Linked DNA regions of Homo sapiens: regions 1, 2, 3, 5, 6 and 7 are each linked to region 4. Evidence: fine-mapped expression QTL. A gene starts in region 4. Each other region holds a variant in brackets. All regions are shown on one strand. Distances are from middle to middle. Region 1 holds the start of LOC124902030 (a long non-coding RNA gene). Region 2 overlaps PTK2 (protein tyrosine kinase 2). Region 3 overlaps PTK2 (protein tyrosine kinase 2). Region 4 holds the start of PTK2 (protein tyrosine kinase 2). Region 5 has its middle 12 kb from the start of AGO2. Region 6 overlaps PTK2 (protein tyrosine kinase 2). Region 7 overlaps PTK2 (protein tyrosine kinase 2).

What was found. PIP is the estimated chance that this variant, and not a neighbour inherited with it, causes the effect.
Region 1: its variant is the best candidate, but not a certain one, in a credible set for the expression of PTK2 in nasal epithelium (TOPMed, PIP 0.83).
Region 2: its variant is the best candidate, but not a certain one, in a credible set for the expression of PTK2 in whole blood (TOPMed, PIP 0.71).
Region 3: its variant is the best candidate, but not a certain one, in a credible set for the expression of PTK2 in monocytes after LPS (Quach 2016, PIP 0.81).
Region 5: its variant is the best candidate, but not a certain one, in a credible set for the expression of PTK2 in whole blood (TOPMed, PIP 0.60).
Region 6: its variant is the best candidate, but not a certain one, in a credible set for the expression of PTK2 in whole blood (TOPMed, PIP 0.89).
Region 7: its variant is the best candidate, but not a certain one, in a credible set for the expression of PTK2 in amygdala (GTEx, PIP 0.51).

The regions. Positions count from the first base shown.
Region 1 is chr8:141,036,898-141,040,897 of GRCh38, forward strand. It overlaps LOC124902030 (a long non-coding RNA gene), which reads right to left and starts at 1,140. Exons shown (of 2, transcript XR_007061121.1): 1 at 808-1,140; 2 at 1-7. RefSeq lists enhancers at 324-948, 949-1,574, 1,575-2,199. The variant C/G (reference allele first, on the strand shown) is at 1,716.
Region 2 is chr8:140,866,573-140,870,572 of GRCh38, forward strand. The region is part of intron 4 of PTK2 (protein tyrosine kinase 2); the gene reads right to left. Among named protein-coding and RNA genes, the nearest start is that of PTK2, 130 kb to the right of the region's middle. The variant T/A (reference allele first, on the strand shown) is at 2,396.
Region 3 is chr8:140,820,661-140,824,660 of GRCh38, forward strand. The region is part of intron 8 of PTK2 (protein tyrosine kinase 2); the gene reads right to left. Among named protein-coding and RNA genes, the nearest start is that of MIR151A, 90 kb to the left of the region's middle. The variant T/TCA (reference allele first, on the strand shown) is at 1,690.
Region 4 is chr8:140,999,687-141,003,686 of GRCh38, forward strand. PTK2 (protein tyrosine kinase 2) reads right to left here and starts at 1,596. Exons shown (of 36, transcript NM_001352702.2): 1 at 1,439-1,596. RefSeq lists silencers at 1,261-1,590, 1,611-2,030.
Region 5 is chr8:140,645,291-140,649,290 of GRCh38, forward strand. No RefSeq gene overlaps it. Among named protein-coding and RNA genes, the nearest start is that of AGO2, 12 kb to the left of the region's middle. RefSeq lists an enhancer at 18-1,217. The variant C/T (reference allele first, on the strand shown) is at 1,968.
Region 6 is chr8:140,975,417-140,979,416 of GRCh38, forward strand. All of the region lies in intron 1 of PTK2 (protein tyrosine kinase 2), which reads right to left. Among named protein-coding and RNA genes, the nearest start is that of PTK2, 24 kb to the right of the region's middle. RefSeq lists an enhancer at 884-1,408. The variant T/A (reference allele first, on the strand shown) is at 2,485.
Region 7 is chr8:140,689,072-140,693,071 of GRCh38, forward strand. The region is part of intron 29 of PTK2 (protein tyrosine kinase 2); the gene reads right to left. Among named protein-coding and RNA genes, the nearest start is that of MIR151A, 42 kb to the right of the region's middle. The variant C/T (reference allele first, on the strand shown) is at 2,306.

The DNA.
Region 1 (4,000 bases), 37 kb after region 4:
AGATCTCCTGGGGGACACAATTCAGACTGTTACACATGGGGACAATGATCGGACCCCACCTCACCTGGGAGGACAGCTGGCTGCTCTGCAACTGCAGAGATGGGAGGGCCCTACAAAGAGCCCACCCATCACTCCACAGCTACCCGTGCTCCCTCTTTTTTTTTTTTTTGAGAAAGAGTCTTGCTCTGTTGCCCACCTCGCAGGTTCAAATGATTCTCGTGCCTCAGCCTCCTAAGTGGCTGGGACTACAGGCGTGCACCATCATGCCCAGCTAATTTTTGTATTTTTTTGTAGAGATGGGGCCGTGATGACCAGGCTGGTCTCGAACTCCTGACCTCCCGTGACCCACTCGCCTCAGCCTCCCAAAGTGCTGGGATTCCCGGAGTGAGCCACCGACTACACCCAGTCAGTTGGCAGCAAGACCAAGAGCTCCTGGGGACAGGCGCATCTTCCACCCCAGCTTCACCCCCACCTGTGGAGCCTCCACCGTTTGCCCCTCTGCTTCCAGCCTTCATCTTCCCCTCCCTCCCTCTGACTGGTCCTGAGTAAGTAGTTCTCAGTCTTCCCCCCTTCTCCCCGTTTCCCCTGCACTCCTCTTCCTGGCCTCCCCCTTGGCCTGGCTCCAAGCTCCAAGCAGAGGGTGACAGGGAAGCGGCTGGGAAGGCGCCCTTTCCTGAGGCCCCTCGCAATGGAGATGAGCTCTGGGCCGGGACTTCACCAGGGTCTCCTCCTCTGTCTGTGCACTTGGCAGTCCATCTTTCTGGAAAAGACCCCTCCACACACACACACACCCAGAAACCCACCCACCTGCTGGTTCTGGCATCTCGTCCCATTCCTGGCTTGGTTACCACCTGCCCTAGCCCGTCACTCTAGATCTCAGCCTCTATTTGGGTCCTTCAGGACATTTGTTACTGCCATAGGGACGCCTCTGCCCCCTCCTCGGGTTTCCTTGGAGGCAGGCTGACTCCACGGGTGGGGGCAGAACAGCACTGGTCCCTCCCCGTCACTCCCTGGGGAGAGGGAGTCTGAGGAGTCCGGGAAGCCCAGCCTGCCTGTGGCCCTTGGGATGGCTCCCCGTGGCCAGCTCTCCCCTAGTGGGCACCGCCCCTGTTTGGCCCTGCTCGGCCCCTTCCTGGGATGGTTATGTTTAATTCAGGAGGAAGGAGCAAGAGCCCATCTGGTTATGAGTCAGAACAACTCCAGCAGCTTCACATTTCCAGCACGGAGCTGACACTTCAGCCCTTACCACCTGCTGATTCTGTTTCCTAATTAATTCCAATTGCAGAGGTGAGGGGGTGAGATGAATCAACACCTTCAAATACCCCACACTCGGATTTCATGGTGTTTTGTTTTTATTTGCCTCTGCTGGTTTATTTTTGTTGGTTTTCCCTAGGAAGGCAGTGAAGTACCTGAGGGCAAGCCTGGGTCTGGGTCTTGCAATCCTATCCTCAGTGCCTAGATGCCCAGTGAACACTGAATTCATCATTGTCCCCCTTTTACAGAGAGGGCTGTATGTCACACAGCGGGTACACGGGGAGCCGGGGTTTAAAGGAGTGTTTTCATGACCCTAATCCCCTGGCCGCTGACCTCCAGGCTCAGAGCCTGACTCATGTAGAATATGCCAGGCCCTTAGTGGCCTGTGGGCTGGCTTTGTGCCCAGAACCAGGGACGTGAGTATCCAGAGCTCACTTCCCCGCTGCTCTCCTCCTCCCCAG[C/G]CCCTTCTTGGCTTGCTCCCGCAGGAAGCCCTCCCTCAGGTATCATTTCCTACAGAGGAAATCTCCTTTGTCCCTGGAAGTGCAAATCTGGCTGTGAGAGTGGCAGGCCTCTTGGGGGCTATTGTTTGGCACTTCCTTCTTGGCAGTGGGCCTTGGGCTCCTGAACCCCTCTGCTGCCTGGCTGTCCAGGGTCTGAGTGCTCCCAGAGGCCCCCCAGGCTGGAAGAGCCAGTTAGTCAGTTAGATAACTATGACTTGGTTCCTGCCTTCAAGGAGGTAAGAGTGTGATGAAAGACCTCAAGCCAAAACCACCCAGAACCATCCAGAACCAACCAGAATCCCCAACCAAGCCCTTCCCAAACTCATCACCCACAGGGATTGTGAAAAATAATAAAACAATTACAGTTGTTGTTTTAACTGTGGTAAAATATGTGTAACGTAAAATTTACCATCTTCATCATTTTTAGGTGTACATTTCAGTGGCATTAAGTACATTCCTGGTGTTGTACGCACATCGCCACCATCCATTTCCAGAACGATTTCATCTTCCCAAACTGAAACTCCATCCCCACTTTAAACACTAACTCCCCTTCCTTCCTCTCCACAGTCCCTGGCACCCACTGTTCTGCTTTCTGTCTCCAAGAATGTGACTCCTCCAGGCACCTCATGTGAGTGGACTCATACAGCATCTGTCCTTTCCTAGCCGGCTTAATTCAAAAGCATAATGTCCTCAAGGTTCATTCATGTGGTAGCGTGGACAGAATTTTCATACTTTTTAAGGCTGAATCATGTTTTGTTTGATATATTCTACATTTTGTTGATCCATTCATCTGTAGATGGAAACCTGGGTTGCTTCCACCTTTGCGCTATTGTGAATTATGCTGCCATGAACATGGGTGTGCAAATATCTGTGAGAGTCCCTTTTTCAGTTTTGTGGGATATGAACCAAGAAGCGGGGTTGCTGGATCATATGGTAGTTCTATTTTGAGTTTTTGAGGAACCACCGTACTGCTTTCCACAGCAGCCACACCACCTGCCACTCCCTGCAACAGTGCACAAAGATTCGAATTTCTTTCTCTTTTTTGAGACAGGGTCTCGCTCTGTCACCCAGGCTCAAGCGCAGTGGTGCAATCACAGCTCACTGCAGCCTCGACCTCTGAGGCTCAAGCAGGCCTCTCAACTCAGCCTCCTGAGTAGCTGGGACCACAGGTGTGCATCACTACGGCCAGCTATCTTTTTTGTATTTTTAGTAGAGATGGGGTCTCACCATGTTGCCCAGGCTGGTCTTGAACTCCTCAGCTCAAGGGATCTACCCACCTCAGCCTCCCAAGGTTCTGGAATTACAGGCGTGAGCCACTTGGCCTGGCAGAGATTCCAGTTTCCCTACATCCTAGCCAGCACTCACTTTTCTCCTTTGATAGTAGCCTTCCTAATGGGCCCGACCTGGCATCTCACTGTGGATTTGGTTTGCATTTCCCTGATGACTAATGATGCTGAGCATCTTTTTTGTGTTTTTTGGCCACTCGCACATCTTCTTTGGAGAAATGTCTTAACCAATATGGGGTCTCATCCTAGCACTCAGGACTTGCCCTGGATTCTCCTGGCTCTGCCCTTGGGACATGATCTGTGCTCGGCTTGGTCAAGGCCCCACAGCCCATCCTTCTCTGCTCCAATGCACCCCACCCACCGGGTCTCCTGGCCAGGAAAAAACACAGCCCTCCCGACTCCTGCCATCCAGCTGGCTCCACCCAGATCCCTCAAATCCTCTCTGAGCCTGGAGTTTTGCCCCCAGGTTGCCCCCTTGCCGTCCCCTAAAGAGTCCTGCTCTATGGCCAGCCCTGTGCCTGGCTAGCAGCTGCCTGTACACATCCTCCTGAATCATGCCACTCTCATGCCCAACACCAGTGTCTGCTCCTGGATTTCCCACTGCTTGGCCCTTCCTGTACCCTGATGGAAGGCGATTAGGAGGTTATTGCAGGGTTGTCTCTGCCTGGGGCCTTTTCTTTTTTTTTGAGACAGAGTTTCACTCTTGTTGCCCAGGCTGGAGTGCAATGGCGCAATCTTGTCTCACTGCAACCTCCGCTTCCTGGGTTCAAGCGATTCCCCTGTCTCAGCCTCCTGAGTAGCTGGGACTACAGGCACATGCCACCACGCCCGGCTAATTTTTGTACTTTTAATAGAGATGGGGTTTCATCATATTGGTCAGGCTGGTCTCAAACGCCTGACTTCAGGTGATCCGCCTGCCTTGGCCTCCCAAAGTGCTGGGATTACAGGTGTGAGCCACTG
Region 2 (4,000 bases), 130 kb before region 4:
TGTTACAAGAAATAAATGAGTCAGTAAACACAAAACACCCAGAACAGTCACTGGCATATCATAATAAATGGTTTCTAAGGTTTATTGTTAGTGATAACTCGATAACTGTTTATTCCAGCACAGATCATGTCTCAGGTACAGTTGGAGTGGTTGGAAATTCAACAGTGAATAACAGGCAAAGTGCTAACTCCCAAAAAGTTTGCATTTTTGTGGCAGAAGTCAGACAGCAAATACACAAATATATGTGAGATGGCAGTCAATGTCATAAAAACAAATCAAAGGGGAATAACAAATGATTAAGTATTATTTTTATAAAGGGTAGTCAATGATGGACACTCTGATATGATGATATCTGAACAAAGATCTAAATAAAGGAGATGAGGAAGGGAGTTATACAGTTATATGCAGAGAAAAAGTGTTCTAGTCAGGTGGAACAGACTATGAAAAGGCCCTGCAGCTGGAGGATGCTTGGGAAGGCAAGTGTAGCTGGGGCAGGCTGCATGAGGGCAGTGAGTAGAAATGAAGCTTCACACAGACCCTTACCAAGTCATGATAGTCGGGTTCTTTCTCAATGAGAAAGCAAGTCAATGGCATGCTGTGCACAGAGAAATGACATCACAGGGTTTTCATTTTTCATGATTAGGGTATACACCATGCAGAAGAGACAATGGGGACCAAAGGAAGAAGGAGGGAGACTAGGAGGAGACAGCAAGATTCTGGGTGAGAAATAATAGCCAGGTTAATATTCACCTTATGTTCACAGATTGGCAAGAGAATTTTAGGGAATTACATAATCTTCCCTAGATCCCACAGCTATTTAGAGGTAGGCATGGGATTCCTCTCCAGCAAGAACATGCATGAATATTTAAAGGCACAATGATACGAAGAAAAGGCACCTATGTCTTAAAAACAGAAAAGAACTTAACTCAAGCCTGCTTATGTGAAGTTAGACAAGGCCTTTAGATCATGTTAAGAATTTTGGTGGGAGCTAAACAATGAGAACACATCCACATAAAGCAGGAATTAAGACACTGGGGACTAACAAGAGTGGTGGATGGGAGGAGGGAGAGGATCAGAAAAATACCTGGTTGATGAAATAATCTGTAAACCAAACCCCTGTGACACGTAGTTTACCTATGTAACAAATCTGCCCATGTACCCTTGAACCTAAAACGAAAGTTAAAAAGAACTTTGTTCCCTGCTTCAACACACTACAGTCTAGCATATTTCACACAAAACTCTACTGAAACTTTCCTCAGTCCTTAAACTGCAATGCCTGACACCATGTTCTCGTGCCCCACTAGAGCTGACATCCCCACTCTGCTCTTACACGAAACTCGTCAGTTTCTTTACATGTCTGTTTGCCATTTTAAGAGTCTAGTTGCATCCTGATACATATTTCCACTTCCCTGCTATACGCCTCTCCATGGATTCCCAACAGCAGCTAAATACTATGCCCCAAATAAAATCATTCTTTCGTTCCTACTCTTAGGCAATATATTCCTATTCATGCCATTGTCATCCAGCTTCCTCAGTCTTACCACCAAATATGAGCACTAAGACACCCAAAAGTAACCAACTGAGGATAAGGAGGGAGAGGGTATGTTTTTGAAAAGCTGAGCTAGATTAAGAATATGATAGTCCTGATACTGAGAAGGGTTAGCTAGCTAGTCCGTGTTTAGTGAAGTAAACAAAGCATTAACTTCACACAACACAGATGCCCTCATAAAAAAAATGTGGTGTGAACAGTCTGTTCTTACAATAGACTTCCAATTTTTTTAAAAAAGGGAAGAATGGAAATAGAAATTTATCATTTAGCAAAAATTACAGTAATAATCACTGCAAGACAGAATCATCAATGAATGCTAAGATCAGTGGGTGAAAGTGAGAAACAGAATGTTGCAGTATCTATGTATCTTCCCAGAAGATATTTCTTAATTATAAAGGGGAAACAGTAACCTTGTAGTGGAGAAACCTGGCTTCCATTACCTTAACCAAATGATCCAAGTTAGAACCACCTGTAAATTAAGTTGTGCCATCATTATGGACTTCCTGATACAATGCAATGAGAAAGGTATGACATCTTGACTGCAGCCGTTTTGCCAAAAACGCAAAACCTTAATCATAAAAACAATACCAAACTCAAATTGAAGAACACAATACAAATAACCAGTGAGTATTCTTCAAAAATGTAAAGGTCATAATGACACAGATTAAGGAACTGTCTCAGATTAGAGAAGACTTAAGGAGACATGACCGTAATGTGGTATTCTGAATTGATCCTCAACCAGAAAAGGAACGGTAAGTGGAATAATTGGGAAATGTGAATAAGTCATATAGATTTGTTACTAGGACTGTATCAATGTTAATCTCCTGGTTTTACTAGCTATATTAT[T/A]TAAGATTTTAATATTTAGGGAAACTGGCTGAAGGGTACACAGGATTTCTGTGTACTATTTTGCAACTTTTGATATTATATTGAGAATTTTTAAATTCCCACATATACAAGACTGACCCTTTTGTAGCTGTGGTGACAAACACCCGCCCCCGCCCCCCCAACCCATACACACACAAAACCAGTTTTAAATCAGCTTGGTCAATAAATATGAGTTGTACAGCCACAGACCCACTTGAAACTAATTTTAAAGCGCCTGATATCTTGCCTCAATGAACACGCATCTGCAAGTCAACTAACTGACTGGCAGCTTCTTCTTTAATTTAGCCAAACAGGAACTAACTCTAAAGAACATGCTTCTAAAGATGAACAGTCTAACTTGGGTAACCATACATCTAAAATTGATGCCAACCCATTTCCACCTCTGAAAGTTGGCCAGCTTCTCAACTTCATACTTCCAAAAACCTTGTATAGAATCAGTAGTGTGTTCTGCTCAGGGAGACTGTGACTGATCAGCACAGCTTTCCCTTAACAGCATCATAAAGCCACTTTTTTCTGATTCAGATAATGAATGATCACGATGTCAGACTTGGACAATACATAAGTAGTAAAACCTTTTTTTTTTAAGCAAAAAAATGATTATGACAAAAGTCAGGATATCAGTTACCTCCGGAAGCAAAGAATAGAGAATGAAATTGGGAATGGGCACACCTCTAATTTAATGGGCTACAATTCATCAATTCATACACAAAGACAATAAATATGTTGCTGATAGGAAACACATAAACAAAGAAAGAGGGGCACTAGGTACTGGTAACAGAAAGAATAGATGAAGATATTATAATCATGAACTTATATGTACTTAACAACATAGCCTTAAAATCATAAAGAATCACAAGACAGAATTACTAAAAAAAAAAAGTAAATCGACAATTACAGTTGAATACTTTCTTTGAGATGAGCATGTAGCAAAACATATATGTGTATAATATATACAATTAAATACATTAAATGTCACTTTTCAAGCAAAGTATGAACAATATAATCTTCAAATAACATGACGATAAGCTTGAAAAAATGTACACAAACACACCCGCCCTCTTTATAATAACAGAACATACCTTCTTTTCAAAAGGAATGAAAACATCAACTAAGTACTAAGGCACAAAGAATCATCTCAACATAGTTAAAAAAAGTCAACACCATAAAATTGTTATGCTTCCTATAATGCAACAAAATAAAATCAATAACCAATAATCTTTTCTTTTATAAGCACATATGGCAGAAACCTAAACAATACACTTAATCACCCCTTGGTTTCTTCCAAAAATCTTGAAACAAATATCAAAACACTGATTGATAATAAAACACTATCTAACAAAGTTGTGAGACATAGACACAACTAAAATGACCATTTATAGTAAAATACATTTATCAGTAAACATGAATGAATGAAAACAAGTGAGCTAAGTGCTCAATTTAGAAATAAGTGGTAAACAGAAATAATAAAATATAACCCACATAATAGCAATATATTATAGAGTAAGAATTAACTTAGTAAAGATGACACAAAGGCTTTGCAGAGAAGACATCAGAAGGCATCAAAGA
Region 3 (4,000 bases), 180 kb before region 4:
TTAAGAGTTGCCATTAAACTGAAATGGCAGAAATTGTGAGAGGAGCAGTTTGGTGGGTAAAGGTCAGAAAGAATGCCAGAAGAATACCAGAAATCCAAGTGGAGCTGTCAAGCAGGCCAGTAAGGGCCCAGTGGAGTTCAAGGGGAGGTCCTGGCTGGCCCAGCAGACAGGGAAGATGGATTAGGTGACCTGCTAATCTCAGTGGGTCAGGGACATGGGGAGCAGCCAGGGGCCCAGGTTGAGGTGTGGCTGCTAAGTCAGGTACACCGTAAACTAGGAGGGCATGGCATACTTTGGTGGGGTCATGGAGGTAATAGCCTGTCTGTAGTGGCTTGAAGGTCCTAGTAGGATCCAAGGATTACTGGATCTGGGATACTACAGAAAGTGAGCTGGAAAGACAGGAGCTATGGTCAGAGAGAAGGATACACACAATTAGGGAGGGGGTTCGATTACTGGAAATGAATAAGACCAGAGTGAGAGGTTGAGGTAAGGCAGAGGACAAGATTCCTGAAGACAGGAATTCAATGAGCCAAGATAGTGGAACATGGGAGGATTACCTAAGGCATGTGACTTTTATTTTAAAAAGCTCGCTCTGCTCTTGCACACAGAGGGTTGGGGGAGTGTGTAGGAGTGAAAGCAGAAAGACCAGTCAGGTCACTGTAACAGATCAAGCAAGAAAACACTAGTGGCATGGACCCCAAGGTAGTGGTGAAGAAGAGAAATGGGCACTTTTGGGACATTTGGATGATCATATGCAAGACAACTGGAAAGTAAAGAATCCAGGAAAAGTAGAGTTTTAGATGGAACAAACAGGCAAACATAAGAGGCAGGCTTGGTGAAAAAAATAAAGTCATGTTAACCCTGTACATGTGTTTGACCTTGAAGTCTTCCAACATGAACCATCAAGGAGACATTTGGATCTAAGTCTGGAGCTCAGGAGAGGGCAGCACTGTTGCTAGAAATTTCAGAGCCACCAGCTGAAGTATTTAAATACATGGGACTAGATGGCACCTGCAAATAAAATGAAGACAAAAGAGAAGGCCAAAGCTAAGTAAGCTGACCAATAGTTGGTTTTAACCAGGGCTGAGGTTTTGACAGGTGAGTATGACAGAGTGGAATAAGAGAATTATAGCTGTTTTGAAAAGGATTAATTACAGCTTCACAGAACTTAAACTGAAGAGCAATAAAATGGGTTCAAGGTTAGCAAGGCTTGACTATAAAATGTATCACATGGAAAGTGAGGTGGTCAGCCTCAGATGCTCTATAAACAAAAGTCCGAAAAGCATATTCTTGGTTTGACTCCAGGCTTTCTAAACATTCTCTGCTTATGATCACCTATGTAGGACAGACTCTACAACAGAGCATGCAGATTGGACATGGAGATTTGAGTACTGCTTGTAGCCACCTACATGATGTTTTTCTCCTTATAAATTAACAATATAGTACCTTGGGACTTTGCTGAATATAAAGCAGTCTCTAAGAAGCAGGCCCGCTACACTCTGGACCTAGAACAAATCCACTAAGGAAATTCTACTCTGTGCTTGGCACTTGGCATACACTGCATAATCAGAACAGGTATCTATTCTCAATAAATTCAGAGTACAGCTGGAAAAAGAGCATTCTGATCTTCATTCATGGCTACAGGAGGAACAGTATAATTCTGTGCATATAGTGCTATTAGGCGCTGAT[T/TCA]CACACACACACACACACACACAAACACACACACACTACCAAAAAATGATACCAGAAAAGACATCTGTAGGCCCTTCCGTGGAAATAAACAAAGTCTTCACAATGACCCTTGCAAGGGAGATACTATTTTTCATATATTACTGAGCAAACAGAGACTGAAACATTAGGTAACAACGAGGGGGTACAAGAATTGTGATTCTAATCCAGAACTACTTGATTTCTTTTTACTTGCTATGAGACCAATTCAAACACCTCCTTTTCTAAGATGCTCTGCTTGATAGAAGAAACCAGGAAGAAACAACCACCACATCCCTATGGGTCTCATACTGCTTTGAATGTATTTTTAGACATGGCACTTATATAAGATCCACGTTGGTGATAAGGGAGCATGCACTGCCTTGTTACCCCAAAGAAAAGAGTATAGCCCGCAGCTGAAACTCAATGATGTGCTTTTACAATGAATAATTACATGTCTCTGCCATAACAACTTGGATTCTGGCAAACTCTCAAACAGATAATATGGATGAATAAAATCTAGTTCTATCCTGTGATAAATTAGGTTTCACTTTCTAGTAAGTAAGTGGGAAGACAGTTCAGATTTCTTTAGTTTCAAACTTCTATCATAGAACATGCTGCCTCAATGTACAAATGCTCTGAGTGTAAGAAATGTCTCCCATCTACAAGTATTAATAGAAAATAAGTCCAGCAAAAGCCCTGGAATATAAAAAAATCTCTTTAAGTGTATGATACAATAAATTGGAATATGGTAGCAGTTGCAAGGAACAGTTGTCAACTGAACACAGGGACCAGAACACAATGACAAAACATTTCTATTAACATTAACCAAATGTTGGTATATTCATTCATGACTCTAAGAGGAATATTTCAACTCAGGTAAATACTGACATGCAGTGATCAAAAATTATGTAAAATAGGTACAGAAAAAAAGTCAATTCTCTACTTTGTACCTAATTCCCAACCAGCTGCTGGTTTATATATAAATTATTGGCAATATTATAATATACTGACACCTGCTCATTTGTTCAATGCTTTTTAAAATTAACCTAAAACATTCTATGAAGTAACGGAGATAGAAGTCGAGGAAACAGAATCTGCTCTTGAGGTTAAAATGCATATATATATATACACACCTGCCTACCTGACAGTTCCACTGCAGTTTCTCACAGACATCTAAAACCTGCCACTAAGAGCACTGAGATTTCAGCCGTGGTGGCTTATTGGCCCTACCCGACTGGACCCTAACATATACATCTAACTTGGTTGCAACTCTATCACTCTGAACTTACTCTTTCCTATACCCCTTCCCTTTGACCCCCATAGTCTCCAGGCACTTCTAGTTCACTACTTACACAGCTGAATGCATCACGGGCAGTCCCACCCAGTTCAGATTCTGCTTCAATATTGTCTCTTGACTAGTAGCACTAGACAGCACTTAAGTGTATGGGACAGAAATCTGAGGCCAGGCCCTGTATTTTCTTCTTCCTCCTCCCACATTAGACCAGTAGCTAAGTCCTGTTAGACTTTACGCCCGTAACATTCTTCAAATGTAACCCAACAACTCTCTACCCTCTGCCTCCTTTAAATTCAAGCCCTCCTTGTTTCTCTTGGCCTCTTATTTCTCAGCATCTGATGACTAAGAATCTTAAAAAGAAGTTGTGTGCTGTTCTTCTACAACAGGGATTGAAGCCATCAACCCTTTGCTAAATAAAGTGAGTCAATTTGGTTTGATCCTCATTTTCTCATCCCAAACTCTTAGACATGGAATGTGTGTGGTGGTAAAGAACTCAACTGCTCTCCCCGATAATTTAATCTGCTGGAAAATTTCCAAGTAACTGGGGCAAATGTGTTTGAAAGTAATAACTATGCAATGTTAAGAGACAATCTGGACTCCAATTTTACTGTATTTGTCTCATTCAGCTGAATGTGGGAAAACATGCTGCTTTTTCTGTAGGCGGTGTTACCTTGCTCATCCTACACATTAACAAGCTGAGACCCAAGAAGTGAGAGCAACAAACAACACAACAAACCAGTAAGCTCAAGCAGCTGGAGTAAAGGAAAACGATATCATTCAGAGTTAGTTTCCTATGGACACAGAAACAACTCTCTCATTCTCCACCAACTAAAACTGTTGGCGCCTTTGGCAGGAATATACCCAAGTTCTTATGGTCTGTACTTAAATGCGACTGCCAATGAGGACTGTGAGTTCCAAACCTATGGTGTTCAGTGCTGGACAGAAACTAGAAAATCTCTGCTGTCTGAAACTCCAAAATCAGTTTTTACGAAAAGGATA
Region 4 (4,000 bases):
ATATGGGACGGAGTGCTCAACTCTCGAAGACATCATTTTCATTACCCGTTTCCCAAATAAAATATTAAGGTTGAGGCTCTGGTATTTCATTTCAAATAGTACTGGTCTGTTTTTCCAGCCATGAAAACGTTTACATTCTAAGTAAAAATCCTAGCGATGGTTAAGTCTTAAATACAAATCCCCAAACTCTTGCACTGCCTTCAGCTTTCAGCTTGAATGTATAACCAGTTCCCATAATTACTACAATATTACTATTATCTTAGTCTCATTGCCAAAAACCCAGCTGCAGGCTAACTATGCAAGAATGAGACACTGTTGAAATGACTCGGAAAAAAAAAAAAAAAGAAACTTTACCCTCACTGAATTTAGCTACAAAATTCTGCAATTAAATGAAACCAATTCACACACACACACACACACACACACACACACACACACACCCCTTCTTCTAAGAAAGAACAGGATGCCGCTACACAAGGAACCCAGAGAGAAATTCGGCAAACAGTTGCGCCTAAGCCACCGCGGCAGAGTCGGGGGCTGGGGGCGGGGAAGAGGAGAAAACTTGGGAAGCACAATGACTCCAGTGAGGACTTCAGTGAGGGCTCCAGGGCTCCCGCCAAGAAGCCCACGGGGCTCTACCAAACTTGAGGGTTTGCGTTCGGGGACACGGCGGGCTTGGGGCTCGGGCACCGGCAGGCCGCTCGGAGCCCACCCTTGGCTGCCCGCGAGGCCGCGCCCGGGGGACGGAGGTCGGGCCGTCGCGAGCCTCCCTCTCGCGTCCGGGCGAACCCTGCCGACGTCCCTGCGATTTCCCTCTTCCTCCTCCTGCCTCTCCCCTTTTGTTTTTCAGGCATTGGGTCCGCTCCGGCGGAGGCCGGCCCGTCCTCCCCGCGCCTCTGTCCGCCCTGCGCGCCCCCAGAGCCCCGGCCTCCTCGTCTTCCTCAGGCCCCTCGGCCTCTCCGCGCGCCCGGCCTTTTCGAAAGCCGCCCCCCCCTTCCTCCTCACGTCTCCCGGACTCCCCACGTCCCCCAGCCTTTCTGTCTTCCCCGAACCCCTTGGCCTCCCCGCGCGCCCCCAAAACCCCCGACCTCCTCGAGCTCCCGGCCTCCCCACGTCCCTCAGCCTCCCAGTCTTCCCCAAGCCTCCCGACCACCCAGCGCCCCGAACCCCCGCCTCCCAGCGCGCCCCCTGACCTCCTTAAGCCTCTCGGCCTCCGCGAGGGCCCCCAACCTCCTCACGGCCACCGGCCTCCCCTCCTCCCAGAACCCGGGCCGGGGGCGCGGGAGGGGCCGGTCTCCGCCGCATCCGCCCCGGGACTGGTTGGGCGGCCCCGCTCTGCCCCTCCGCCCTCAGGGCCGCGGCCCAGCCCACGACCGCTGCACAGAAGGAGCCCGCCCAGCCCCCGACCCGCGCCCCGCGCCCGGCGCCCCGCACTCACTCGGACCGCGGCTCGGCGCCGTGAAGCGAAGGCAGACGACGACGGGGCGGCGCTGGGCGACAGCAGCCGCGCTTCCTCCCACGCCTCACGCCGCGGGCTCACAGTGGTCCGGGACCGGCGGCGGCGGCGGCGGCGCGGGCTCGCGCCCTCGAGGCCGTGCTGCGTCGGCGCGGGCCCGCGCGCGTGCGCGGCAGCCGGCTGAGGCGCGCGTCCTCTCTCGGCAGCGCACGCCCGACCCGGTCTCAGTCCGGAGTTCCCGCCTCTCGGGGGGACTGGGCATGCGCGCCGCCCCCGCGCATGCCCAGCGCGCCGCTAGGCTCTGCTCGCGTAATTTGTCCTGTAGTGACCGCGCCGGGGTTTCGGGGTGGCCCGAGGCTGCGCGCGGGCGTGGCGGCCGGACGAGGAAAGCCCTGGTCTCGGGGGTGGCCGGGGTCGCCCCGCCGAGCGGACATCCTGGGGTCCCACCTGCCTCGCTCTCCGCCAGCGGGATTAGACGGACTTCGGGAAAGTCCTCCCCATCTCCTTCCCTGCCCCCAAATCCCGAAGGGGTCCCCTCTGGAGAACCTCCCTCCTGAGCGGCCCTGCGGCCCCGCCCCCAGAGTTGGACGCCCGCTGTCGGGCACCCGCTGCGGGCCCCGGGCCTTGCAGTGCACTCTCCAGGCACCACACCGACCCTAACGAGCGGTTCCTGGGCCCTTTTTGCAGACAAGGAAACTGAGGCTCAGAGATTCTTTTCATGGCATTATAGCTAAGTTGGGCTGGGCCATTATTTGATTTTGGAAGATGAAAAATCATGAAAGGGACTTAGAAGTCCACTGGAGGTAGACAGGTTACCTAAATGAACGCCAGCAGGGAACGAGCCCTGCAATCCCTCCCGAGGGCTACAGACCTGAGACGGGCTCCAGGAAAAGGAGGGAAGGCTCGCCCCGACACCGACCCGGGCTTCCGCGGTGTGAGCCAGTTTCAGCGAGGAGCTAGTTGGTTATGACCGGAACGTGCCGTAGGTGGGGTGGGGGAAATAGCAAAAGGCGAGGTTGGAGGGATTGAAAAATGCAGACGGCTGCGTGGGGCTTGCTTAGGTGCCTGGAGTTTATTCTTTAGGCAACAGGGAACCTTTGGAGGGCTTTAAGCAGGAAGTGATAACTGATTTGTGTTATTTAAAAAAAAAAAAAAGTCACTCTGGCAACCTTGTGGTCGGAAATGAAACCAGAAGAACCCTCAAGGCTGCAACTTTCATTTTTATGGTGTCATTTTGATGCTAACCACAAGCCAGGAAGCAGGACAGACAGGCACCGAGGCCTTTTGAAAGGTGAACACCCTGAAGCCCAGAGAGGTGACACACGTCATTGCATTAGGAGCTTTTATAAAAGTAAAAATGAAGTAAAATAAAAAGCTTTTGCTTATCAAGATTTTACCATATTTAAATGTTTGGGTTGTATTGTTCTTTAATGAGATGTATTAAGGTTGGTGTTTTTCTGGGTTTTGTTACTTTTTACTACATATGAAATTGTAAGGAATTGCCTCTCCATGCCAGCCTCAGGCCTTTGCGCGTGCTATTTGCTCTGCCTGGAACTTCTTGCTCCTCACTTCGTTCAATACCCTGCTTATATATCACCTCATTGATACAGCCGACCACTTCATATAATAGGAACCACCCACTGCCCTGCTATCCTCACACACAGTCCGCACTTAGTCTGCTCTGTTGTTCTCCAAAGCACCTATTGTTCACCATAGCCCAACACTGTGTTCTTGTTTATTTCTTGATTGTCCGCTCTCTCCACTAGAATCTTAGATTCATTAGAGCACGGGCTTTGTTTTGTTCACTAATAGGTCCTGGCACACAGTAAGTATTTGTCAAGTGAATGAACGAAGCTTTGGGTGATGTGAAGTGAGAGCTTATTATTAAAAGGATAAGAAAAGCATGGGAATTAAAAGAGGAGAGTGGAGGCACAAAGGGACTGCATTAAGGATAACTTTGGGGGAAGGGGCTGCACTTAGCATAGTAGACTAAAAATGGCCATCAATTCTTTGACACTTTTCCCAAGAAGAGGTGGAATTTATTCACCCCTTGAATGTGGATGGGATCTTGTAACTTGCTTTGACCAATGGGATGTGTCACAAGTGACATTGTACAAATTCCAAGCCTAGGCCTCAAGAGGCCATGCTGCTTTCATTTTCCCCCCTTAAGCCCAAGCTAGCCTCACGAGGAGGCCGTGTGGAAGAGAACTGAGGCACCCTGGCCAACAAGGTGCCACCTCCAGACATGTGAGTGAGCTGTACTAGACCACCCAGCCCCTGTGAAGCATACATAAGACCTGGAGAGACTGATGGAAGAACTGCCCAGCTGAATCCAACCCAAATTGCCAAACCACAGAATTGTGAGCCAATAAAATACATGTGGTTTTAAGCCTTTAGGTTTTAGGGTAGTGTGTTACACAATATTGTTTCCTGGACTCTGCCACGATACATTTGAAATTGACGTTCTTGAAGGGCAGCTTTGGTTATTATTATGCTTAGTAAAAGAAGAAATCAGAAAACGGCGGGAAGAAGTGATGCAAAGGA
Region 5 (4,000 bases), 350 kb before region 4:
TTCTAATACCTAACACAATGTAAAATGCCATGTAGTAAATAATCATACTGTATTGTTTAGAGAATAATGACAAGAAAAATGTCTGTACACCTTCAGTACAGAGATAACCATCATAGGCCTGACTACATTTTCCATCCACAGTTGGTTGACTCTGAGGGCATGGAGGGCTGACTGTACCTGAGCCACCTCTTCTTTAATATTTCACATCACTCTTTTCCTCACAGGACCCATTTTCCATTTTAATTCTTCCACATATTTTTATCCTAAGGAGATATTTTTATGTTTGAAAATCTTATTGATTATGCTATATACTTGTCTACAACAAAAAGTATATATAAATTGAAATCTGAAATTTTTATTTCCTGTGAGACCAAGTGTTAGAAAACATTCTTCTGGGCTTACTTATCATTACAACTGTCAGAACACAACTAATCAAACACAAATATATTACAAAGTTTGAATAATAATTATTAGTCATGAAAGTGTCACTCATTAGTCATACATTTTTGTTGGAAATAATCTCTTAAGGAAAATAGTGGACTTTTCTTTTTCTAATTCCCAGACTCAGGAAGAACCGGATGACCCATTGCTGGAGTCAGGGCTCTTCAACAATTCTTTTCCCGTTCCCCATGTTTGTGAATGTCAGTGCTTACAGCTGCGGTCCCAGGAAGCGTGGGTGAGAATGGAAGGAAATTCTGTTACAGTGACTCAGTGCTCTGACCCCTCCCAGGATATCCTCCAGAACTCGCATGCTGCTCTCCTACCGACAGTCCTGGGTGAGAACCCACAGCTGGCGACTCAGCCATCCTGCCTCAGGGTGATGGAAGCTACAACTGAAGTCACCTGGCTTTCAAAAGGTTCTTTTGTGGCCGGGCGCGGTGGCTCACGCCTGTAATCCCAGCACTTTGGGAGGCTGAGGCGGGCGGATCAGTTGAGGTCAGGAGTTCGAGACAAGCCTGGCTAACACAGTAAAACCCCGTCTGTACTGAAAATACAAAAAATTAGCCGGGTGTGGTGGCAGGTGCCTGTAGTCCCAGCTACTTGGGAGGCTGAGGCAGGAGAATGGTGTGAACCCAGGAGGCGGAGCTTGCAGTGAGCCAAGATCGCGCCACTGCACTCCAGCCTGGGCGACAGAGCGAGACTCCATCTCAAAAAAAAAAAAAAAAAAAGGATCTTTTGTGACCCTAATTGAGTCTGGGTGTCTACAGAAAGGTGTGATAGATGAGATTACCATCCAAAAGTCATCGCTCCCTTGCCCTTTACAGTTGATTTCTTACCCCAGTGGCGCTGAGCTCAACCGTGTGACTGTCAACGGTCGACAGGATGTCAGCAGTCCTGCCCTCAGAGGCTTACATGCAGTTGCCCCGTCTGGTTGCCAGGTTGGTCTCAGCCAGGTGGCCTAGAGAAACCTTCCTCCCTGCATCTTCCTCAGCCTGGTCGCTGAGGGCATGTGAAGCCAGGTCCATCTGGAGGCAGAGCCTCCCAGCCACACGCAGCTGCGCCAGCTAATGCACAGAGGTGGAGTGAGGGGAACACGTGTTGTTACACAGCAGAAGCTGAGTCAAAATCCCCAAGGGGCCTTTTAAAACGTGGAAGTTGACAAATTGGTGCCAAAATGTAAATGTAACTGCAAGTGAGTTAGAAGAGCCAAAAATAAGTATCTTGGAGAAAAAGAACAAAATTGGATGATTTGCAATAGCCACTTTCAAGACTGACTACGCTTGGTTTCAGGAGTCATTATAAGGCTGCAGTAATCAAGACAATGTGGCATAGACATAAGAACAGATGAGAACAGTGGAACAGAATAGCAAGTCTAGAAATAAATCCACACATAAATGGCCAATAGGTTTTTGACCAAGGTACCAAGGCAAGACAATGGAGAAAGATTTTTTTCAACAAATGGTGCTGGAATAATTGGATTTCCGTATGGAAAATAATGAACTTCAACATCTACCTCACATCCTTCA[C/T]ACTAATTCAAAATAAATCATAGACCTAAATATAAAACTAATATGGCGGGGCGTAGTAGCTTATGCCTGTAATCCCAGCACTTTGGGAGGCCCAGGCAGGAGGATTGCTTGAGCCCAGAAGTTCAAGACCAGCCTGGCAACGTGGCAAAACCTCATCTCTATAGAAAATATAAAAATTAGACGGGCTTGGTGGCATACACCTAGATCCTAGTAGTTCATGGCTGCAGTGAGCTCTGATTATGCTACTGCACTCCGGCTTGGTGACAGAGTGAGACCCTGTCTCAAGAAGGAAAAAAAAAAAGGGAAAAGAAAGTCCCAGTTACTTGGGAGGCTGAGGTAGGAGGATCGCCTGAGCTCGGGAGGCTGAGGTAGGAGGATCGCTCGAGCTCGGGAGGCTGAGGTAGGAGGATCGCTCGAGCTCGGGAGGCTGAGGGAGGATCGCTCGAGCTCGGGAGGCTGAGGTAGGAGGATCGCTTGAGCTTGAGGGGTCGAAGCTGCAGTGAGCTGAGAATGCACCACTGCGCTCCAACCTAGGTGACAGAGTGGCACCTTGTCTCAAAAACAAATGAACAAACAAACAACCTTAAAAATTAATGCTATATAGCTTTTAGAGGAAAATATGGTAAATATCATGCAACCTTGGGGCAGGCAAAGATGTCTTAGAGAAGATGCAAAAAGCACTAAGTATTTTAAAAAGTATTAATTAGAACTTCATTCAAATTAAGAACTATTGCTCATCAAAAGATACTGTTAAGAAAATAAAAAGACAAGCCACGGACTGAGAGAGAATATTTGCAATACATACAGCTGACAAAGGACTTATATCCAGAATATATAAAGAATGACTACAAATCAATAATAAAGTAAAAAACTTGATTTTTAAAAACCAGCAAAAGGCCACGTGGAGTGGCTCACGCCTATAATCCCAGCTACTTGGGAGGCTGAAGTAAGAGGATTGTTTGAGCTCAGCAGTTCAAGACCAGCCTGGACAACACAGTGAGACTTGCTGTAAAATAAATAAATAAATACATAAAATAATTTTTAAAAAATGAGTAATAGCCTGGGTGACATGGCAAAACTGCATCTCTACAAAAAATACAAAAATGAGCCGGATGTGGTGGTGCATGCCTGCAGTCCCAGTTACTGGGGAGGCTGAGGTGGGAGAATCACCTGAGCCCAGGAAGTGGAGCTGGCAGTGAGCCATGATTGAACCACTGCACGCCAGCCTGGGTGACAGAATGAGACCCTGTCTCAATAAATTAAATAATTTAAAAAAATAGCCAAAAGATTTGAACAGACCTTCATAAAAGCAAACAGTTGGCCAGTTGTAGTGGGTCATGCCTGTAATCCCAACATTTTAGGGGGCTGAGACAAGAGGATGCCTGGCTGCAGTGAGCTCGGATCGTGCCACTGCATTCCAGCCTGGGTGACAGGGTGAGACCCTGTCTCAGGAAAAAAAAAAAAAAAAAAAAAAAAAAGAGAGAAAAGAAATAAAAACATACCTACCCAAAAAGACTTGTATGCAAATGTTTATAGCCACTTTATTCATTAAGCCCCGAACTGGAAACAATCAGATATCTATCAATAGGAGAATGGTAAACGAACTGTAGTCTATGTACCCAATAGAATACTATTCAGCAATTAAAAAAAAATTACAGGCCAGGTGCGGTGCTCATGCCTGTAATCCCAGCACTTTGGGAGGCCGAGGCGAGTGGATCACAAGGTCAGGAGTTCAAGACCAGCCTGGCCAACATGGTGAAACTCTGTCTCTACTAAAACTACCAAAAATAGCCAGGTGCAGTGGCAGGTGCCTGTAATCCCAGCTACTGGGGAGACTGAGGCAGGAGAATCACTTGAACCCAAGAGGCAGAGGTTGCAGTGAGCTGAGATCATGCCACTGCACTCCAGCCTGGGCTACAGAGTGAGACTCCATCTCAAACAAAACAAAACAAAGAAAACAACAAACACACCACATGGATGCATCCCAAAAACATTGTGTTAAGTGAAAGAAGCTAGACACAAAAAAGCACACA
Region 6 (4,000 bases), 24 kb before region 4:
TAAAAATATTCAGTTCCACAAAACCCCAGCCTCTCACACCTCCATGCCTTTGCACATGAGTGGAATCCACTTCCCATCTTCCGCTGAAAAATACTTTACAAAGAGGTCACCACATCTAGTCCACAGCCAGTTTTTACATGGTTCCTGGACTAAGAATGATTTTTACATTATTAAAGCGTTGAGGAGAGGGGGGAGGGGGAAGAAAGGAAGAAAAAATTAGAGGAAATGCGATAGGCTGTATGTGTATATGCGACCCCCGAAGGCTGAAGTTTCTACTCTCCGGCCTTTAAGAGGGGAAGTCTGCCGACCCCTGAGGTTGGGCATCACAAGGGACTTGCCCTCCAGATTGCCTGAGCACGCTAAGAGACAACTGCACACATCATGCTGCATGCCAGGGAACTATAACAGTCTCACTCCCCCTCAAGTCTATACCTTCAGGGCTTAATACCGTACCAGGCACAAAACAGTATTTTTTAAATGGCGAACAAATGAATTAACTGAATGAACCAGCTCAAGAACTGGTGAAATCACATTAAATGGAAAGGACCTGTGCCTTTAGTAGTAAAACACTACTTACGTCTGTTAAAGATACTATTAACAACATTAGCACCTTACATTTGTATACCACTCTACACAGTAACTGCACATATAACCTCAAAGGCTAAGACCATAAAAACTACACTTTATAAATAAGGACTTGAGAAGCACAGAAACTAACTTGCCAAAAGTCACATGACTAAAGGCAGAGCCAATATTTGAAGTTGGGTCTTGTTTCTTAGATAAAATGCATTTTCTCTTAAACAGACTACACAACTACAATATCTAGACACTTACACAATACCTCTCTACAAAAATCACAATACCTAGACACTTCAATTACTAATGCCTGAGATTCAGGAGACAGATAAAATTTAATTTCTGAGCCACTATTTAACTGATAATTTTCAAGTTAATGCTACTTTCTGGGGAGAAAAAAATGAAATGGACACCCAAAATAAACACTAGGCTAAAAGGTCCCAGAATAACCACAAGCTAAAAATTTTCTCTTTTCCTTAAGAATCAGTCCTTGGGAAAGCAACACAAAATTAAACAGCTTAATTAACAAATGCCACTGAAAGGAAAGCAGCTGCAGTCACAGCATGAACTCCTTGCCTGTCAGCTAAGCTAAAACAAACTGGCAGTTGAGGCAGTCACTTGTCTTTAAGCTTCAGTTTGGGTAGAACAGAATCCAAAAGCTGATAATGTACATTAACACCTCAACTTCAGCCAGAAAACAACACAAGTGTTTCCAGAGGCAGAAAATAGAAACTCTATTAACTTTTTAAAAAGCCTAATAATGTTAGTCTAATCTTTTTTTCATAACTAAGGTATAACTTAGGCATAGCTGGAGTTTAAGTGGCTAGGTACCTAAAAGTTTCTGAGTTGAGACCAAGATTTTAGCCAAATTCTACTACAATATAGGTCTATTTAAGACAACATTAATTTCAAAGAATTGGTAACATACAGAACACATTTTCTGACTACAATCCAATTCTAGAAATGTCACAAGATACAATGAAAAAAAGCTCATTTGTTTGTAATTTATCAAACACTTTAAAATAAATCATGAATCATCAAAGGAATCAGTAGAATTTACAAAATATGTCTAAATATTAAACTTCTTTATTAAATAGAACAATAAATGCTTTATGGGCCAGGTGTGGTGGCTCCTGCCTGTAAATCCAGCACTTTGGGAGGCCAAGGCGGGAAGACTGCTTAAGCCCAGGAGCTAGAGACCAAGTTTGGCAACATAGTGGGACCCTATCTCTAAAGAAAATTTAAAAATTAGCCAGGTGTGGTAATGTGTACACCTGCTAGTCCCAGAAACTCAGAAGGCTGAAGCAGGAGGATCGCTTGAACCTGGGAGGTCAAGACTGCAGTGTGCAGCATGGGCGCGGTAGCTCACGTCTGTAATCCCAGCACTTTGGGAGGCCAAAGTGGGCAGATCACGAGGTCAGGAGATCGAGACCATCCTGGCCAACACGGTGAAACCCCATCTCTACTAAAAATACAAAAAATAGCTGGGCATGGTGGTGCACACCTGTAGTCCCAGCTACTCAGGAGGCTGAGGCAGGAGAACTGCTTGCACCCAGGAGGCGGAGGTTGCAGTGAGACGAGACAGCACCACTCCCCTCCAGCCTGGGCGACAGAGCAAGACTGTCCAAAAAAAAAAAAATACTGCAGTGAGCTGTGATCGTCCAACTGGACTCCAGCCTAAGTGACAGAATGAGACTTTGCCTCAAAATAATAATAATAAATGCTTTATGAACTAAATAAAAATACTTCACATCAAAACTTAGCCCTTGGATAAAGAGAGATTCCTTAAAAAAATCAAAACAATAAAAAGTACTCATCATAAAGGAAAAAAGAAATAAAGCTTATGACATTAAAATTAAGAACTTTAGTTCCCTACAGTAACCAAAACAGCATGGTACTGGTACCAAA[T/A]CAGAGATATAGATCAATGGAACAGAACAGAGCCCTCAGAAATAATGCCGCATGCATATCTACAACTATCTGATCTTTGACAAATCTGACAAAAACAAGAAATGGGGAAAGGATTCCCTATTTAATAAATGGTGCTGGGAAAACTGGCTAGCCATATGTAGAAAGCTGAATCTGGATCCCTTCCTTACACCTTATACAAAAATTAACTCAACATGGATTAAAGACTTAAATGTTAGACCTAAAACCATAAAAACCCTAGAAGAAAACCTAGGCAATACCATTCAGGACATAGGCATGGGCAAGGACTTCATGTCTAAAACACCAAAAGCAATGGCAACAAAAGCCAAAACAGACAAATGGGATCTAATTAAATTAAAGAGCTTCTGCACAGCAAAAGAAACTATCATCAGAGTGAACAGGCAACCTACAGAATGGGAGAAAATTTTTGCAATCTACTCATCTGACAAAGGGCTAATATCCAGAATCTACAATGAACTCAAACAAATTTACAAGAAAAAAATCAAATGACCCCATCAACAAGTGGGCAAAGGATATGAACAGACACTTCTCAAAAGAAGACATTTATGCAGCCAAGAGACACATGAAAAAATGCTCATCATCACTGGCCATCAGAGAAATGCAAATCAAAACCACAATGAGATACCATCTCACACCAGTTAGAATGGCAATCATTAAAAAGTCAGGAAACAACAGGTGCTGGAGAGGATGTGGAGAAATAGGAACACTTTTACACTGTTGGTGGGACTGTAAACTAGTTCAACCATTGTGGAAGTCAGTGTGGTGATTCCTCAGGGATCTAGAACCAGAAATACCATTTGACCCAGCCATCCCATTACTGGGTATATACCCAAAGGACTATAAATCATGCTGCTATAAAGACACATGCACACATGTTTATTGCGGCACTATTCACAACAGCAGAGACTTGGAACCAACCCAAATGTCCATCAGTGATAGACTGGATTAAGATAATGTGGCACACATACACCATGGAATACTATGCAGCCATAAAAAAGGATGAGTTCATGTCCTTTGTAGGGACATGGATGAAGCTGGAAACCATCATTCTCAGCAAACTATCGCAAGGACAAAAAAACCAAACACCCCATGTTCTCACTCATATGTGGGAATTGAACAATGAGAACACATGGACACAGGAAGGGGAACATCACACACCGGGGCCTGTTGTGGGGTGGGGGGAGGGGGGAGGGATAGCATTAGGAGATATACTTAATGTTAAATGACAAGTTAATGGGTGCAGCACACCAACATGGCACATGTATACATATGTAACAAACCTGCACGTTGTGCACATGTACCCTAAACCTTAAAGTATTAAAAAAAAGAAAAAAAAAAAGAACTTTAGCTCCAAGACACCTCACAGGTAAAAAAAACAAACCACAAACTGGAAGAAAATATTCACAACACATAATGATAAAGGATTGCAATCCACACATAGAAAGAACAGCTACAAGTCAATTAAAAAAAAAAAAAG
Region 7 (4,000 bases), 310 kb before region 4:
GGTAAGATAGACATGAATAGACAGAAAGGAAACCAAGCAAACACACGTAATACATTGATTCCAACTGGCAACTGAAGGGGAACTCACTGGGGAGGTCCTATTCCATGTAGCAGAACTCACAGATCCTATTCCATGGAATGCTGAGGTTCTGCCACTGCCTGAATGAAGAGGCAGCTTTGTGGGGCCCAAACATCCCAGATATGCTTAAGAAAAAATATTCCAAAACACAATGGACTTTGAGAAAAAGTACCTGAGAAGACGAGACTCCAGGTTGACAATTCACAGAACATTACTCAATGTAAATATCAAGGTCAGGAAAGATTTCGGGAAGACCCAGGAACTGTTCAAGCTTAAAGGAAACTCAAGAGATGTGATAACTAAATATAACTCATGATCCAGGACTTTTTTCTAGAAAGGGCATTCTGTGGACAACTGGTAAAATATGAATAGTCCATTGATTAGCTAACAGTATTGTATTATTGTTAATTTCCTGACATTGGTTAACTCAGCTATGGTTATTTAAGAGAACATCCTTATTTTTAGGAAATTCACATTGAACTATTTAAGAGTTAAAAAGCAGGATATCTGGTATTTACTTCCAAATGGTTCAGAAAAAATGGTATGTACAAATATGCAAAGCAAATGAGGTCAAATGTTAACAACTGGAGACTCTAGGTAAAGGGAACATGGGAATTCTTTGTACCATTCTTGTAACTTTAAAAAACTCTGAAACTATCCTTTCCTCTTCTGCCCATTCACTTGAGGGACCAGCTGGGAGCTGGTTCTGCTTAGGGGTTCTGTTGAAGGGCTCTAAACAGAGAGTGGAGGTGATTAGGTTTGACTCTACTGTAGCAGAAAGGACAAGTTTTTATTTTCATTTTTTATTTATTTATTTTTTTGAGATGGAGTCTCCCTCTGTCTCCCAGGCTGGAGTGCAGTGGCATGACCTCAGCTCACTGCAAGCTCTGCCTCCCGGGTTCATGCCATTCTCCTGCCTCAGCCTTCTGAGTAGCTGGGACTACAGGCGTCCGCCACCACGCCCGGCTAATTTTTTGTATTTTCAGTAGAGATGGGGTTTCACTGGGTTAGCCAGGATGGTCTCGATCACCTGACCTCATGATCTGCCCGCCTCGGCCTCCCAAAGTGCTGGGATTACAGGCGTGAGCCACCGCGCCAGGCCAACAGTTTCTATTTTTAAGAGACAGGGTCTTGATCTGCCGCCCAGGTCAGAGTGCAGCGACTATTCACAGGCACAATCATAGTGCATTACAGCCTCGAACTCCTGGCCTCAAGCAATCATCCGCCTCAGTTTCTGGAGTAGCTGGGACTATACATGCACGCCACCACGCCCAGTTAGAGCTATAGTCTAAGAAAACAAAAGACCCACCAGGCCCAACTTACGATGTGGTCATTTAATAGTTACATGATTTTGGTTATTTTAAAATATTGTATACCTCATTTGTCAATAATCTAACAAAAGAAACATGCACTTACTGTAGAAAAATTAAGATACTGCAAAAATAGATGAAAAAATTACAAATCACTCAACCTTACCATTTGGAAGTAATTATCATTAGTTATTATGGAGTAATTAAAATGTAAAAGTAATTATCATTAGTTAATACTGTGGTGTAAATGTATGTTTACAAACATGGAACCACAACATATGATTCTACAGCCTTCACATAACATTTATATAGGGCAAACTGACAAAACAATGTTTAAGGCTGCACAACGTTCCACTGCATGATTATCATCATAAAATAGACAATGGTAGTGAAGGGTGGGAGCTGTGGCACCAGGTGGCCTGGGTTCTAATGAGGATCCAGTCCTTACAAGCTGTGTGACCTGGGCCTCAATTTCTTCATTTCTAAAATGGAACAGTAATTGTAACCAACACATAGGATTGTTAGGAGGATGAAATGAGTTAATATTTGCAAAGTACTAAGTTGGTGCCACACAAGAGTTAAAATAAATAGTTCTTTTATTGTTGGATATTAGGGTCATTTTCAAAATCCCTCATAAATAGGCTGTAGATGAACACCTTTGTATACAAATCTTTGACTAAGTCCCTGATTATTTCCCTGGGACAGATTTCTTTTCTTCTTCTTTTAGAGATGGTTGGGGGTGGGGGGTCTCACTATGTTATCCAGGCTGGTCTTAAACTCCTGTGCTCAAGTGATCTTCCTGTCTCTGGAGCAGATTTCTAAGAAAGGAATTACTAAGTCAAAGAGTTTGAACATTTGAAAAATCTTGGTATAAGTTTCCAAACTGCTCAAGGCTGTCCTGATTTTCATCTATGTAG[C/T]AATATGTGATAGCATTTCTCTCACTGTACCCTAACACCACTGTATTATCATTTTAAAACTCTCAACCAATTCATAAAGAAAATACTGTATAATATATTGTTGTAATTTGCTCCTCTCCTCCTCCCTTTCCCCAAATAGTTGACCATTTTTGTTTCTTATCATGAGATGCTAAGTTCCATGAAGACAGAGGCTATGAAGCTGTCTGCCTCACCGCTGCGTCTCTGTTACCTGCTAGAACACCGGACAAACAGGTGGAGGAAATGAATGCCCTGTGCATTTTTCTAGTGAACTGATTGTCCATGCCTCTTTGGACAAGGCATATAACCTCTCTAGGCCCAGTTCCTCACCTGTAAAATAGGCAGAATAATACCTCAGTCAGTCATTATCAGAATGAAAGAAGTGCCTGGCAGCATTGTGCACATAGATGTGTAGTAAATATTTGCTGAAGGAATGCTTCAATTAATATCCAAGGCACAAGAGATATGTTATAGACGAGGAACTTGACTTAGAAAGATTTAGTTGCTTGGGGTAACACAGCTCTTAAACAGTGGAGGTGGGCTTCAATCAGTCAACAGATAATAAGAACCTTCTACAGGCAGGAAATATTTACTGTTTTACTTAAACAAAAAATGCAACTCATATTTTTGCCTATAGAATAAGGTATTGTTTCATGTGTTTACATGAATTAATCTATTTTTATTTCCATATACATTTCATGAAATGACTTTCTTTAATGCATAATTCCCTAATGTGGTATTTTCCTAAAGACAGGATTTTAATTTTAAAATGAGAAAGGCTTATCCATATAAAATCTACTTGTGTTCTGTGAATGAAATAAATACTTGAGCTTTTTCTTTTCATAGAGCATACACGGACCTCCTGAATGAAAGATGAGTGCCTATTGGGAACTGAAGAGCAATACAGCCAAAGACAGCCAATCAGAAAGAATAGATTCTCAGCCAGGTGCAGTGGCTAACACCTGTAATCCCAGCACTATGGGAGGCCGAGGTGGGTGGATCACCTGAGGTCAGGAGTTCAAGACCAGCCTGGCCAACATGGTGAAACCCCATCTCTACTAAAAATACAAAAATTAGCCGGGCATGGTGGCAGGCACCTGCAGTCCCAGCTAGTCGGGAGGCTGAAGCAGGAGAATCGCTTAAACCCGGGAGGCGGAGGTTGCAGTGTGCCAAGATTGCGCCATTTCACTCCAGCCTGGGGGACAAGAGTAAGACTTCGTCTCAAAACAAACAAAAACAAACAAGCCAAAAAAAAAAAACAGTTCGGCTTAGCTACAGTCTCTACTTTCATGTGGGTATGGCTCTAGAAAACTTCAAATTTAAGGTTTATAGCTCAGTCTTTTCTCCTTTCACTATACTGTATTGCTTTCAAATCTGGAATCTGGTATGAGGGAAAAAATAGGAGAGCTGTTGGCCTTGCTGCGTAGCAGAAGCAGGGACAGCAGCCTGGCTTCAGACAGACAGCCTCTTGCCACTGCTCTTTAGTTCCCCGTCTCGGCATTCATCTTTCATTCAGACTGACTGGATCTGCTATGTGAGGGAAAAATGCTCACATATTTCTTTCTCAAAACACAAAGTAGGCTTTATATAGATAGGGCTTTCTCATTTAAAATTAAAATCCTGTTTTAAGCATAGTATCACATTAGAAAATTATTGTGCATGCAGTAATAAAAAAAA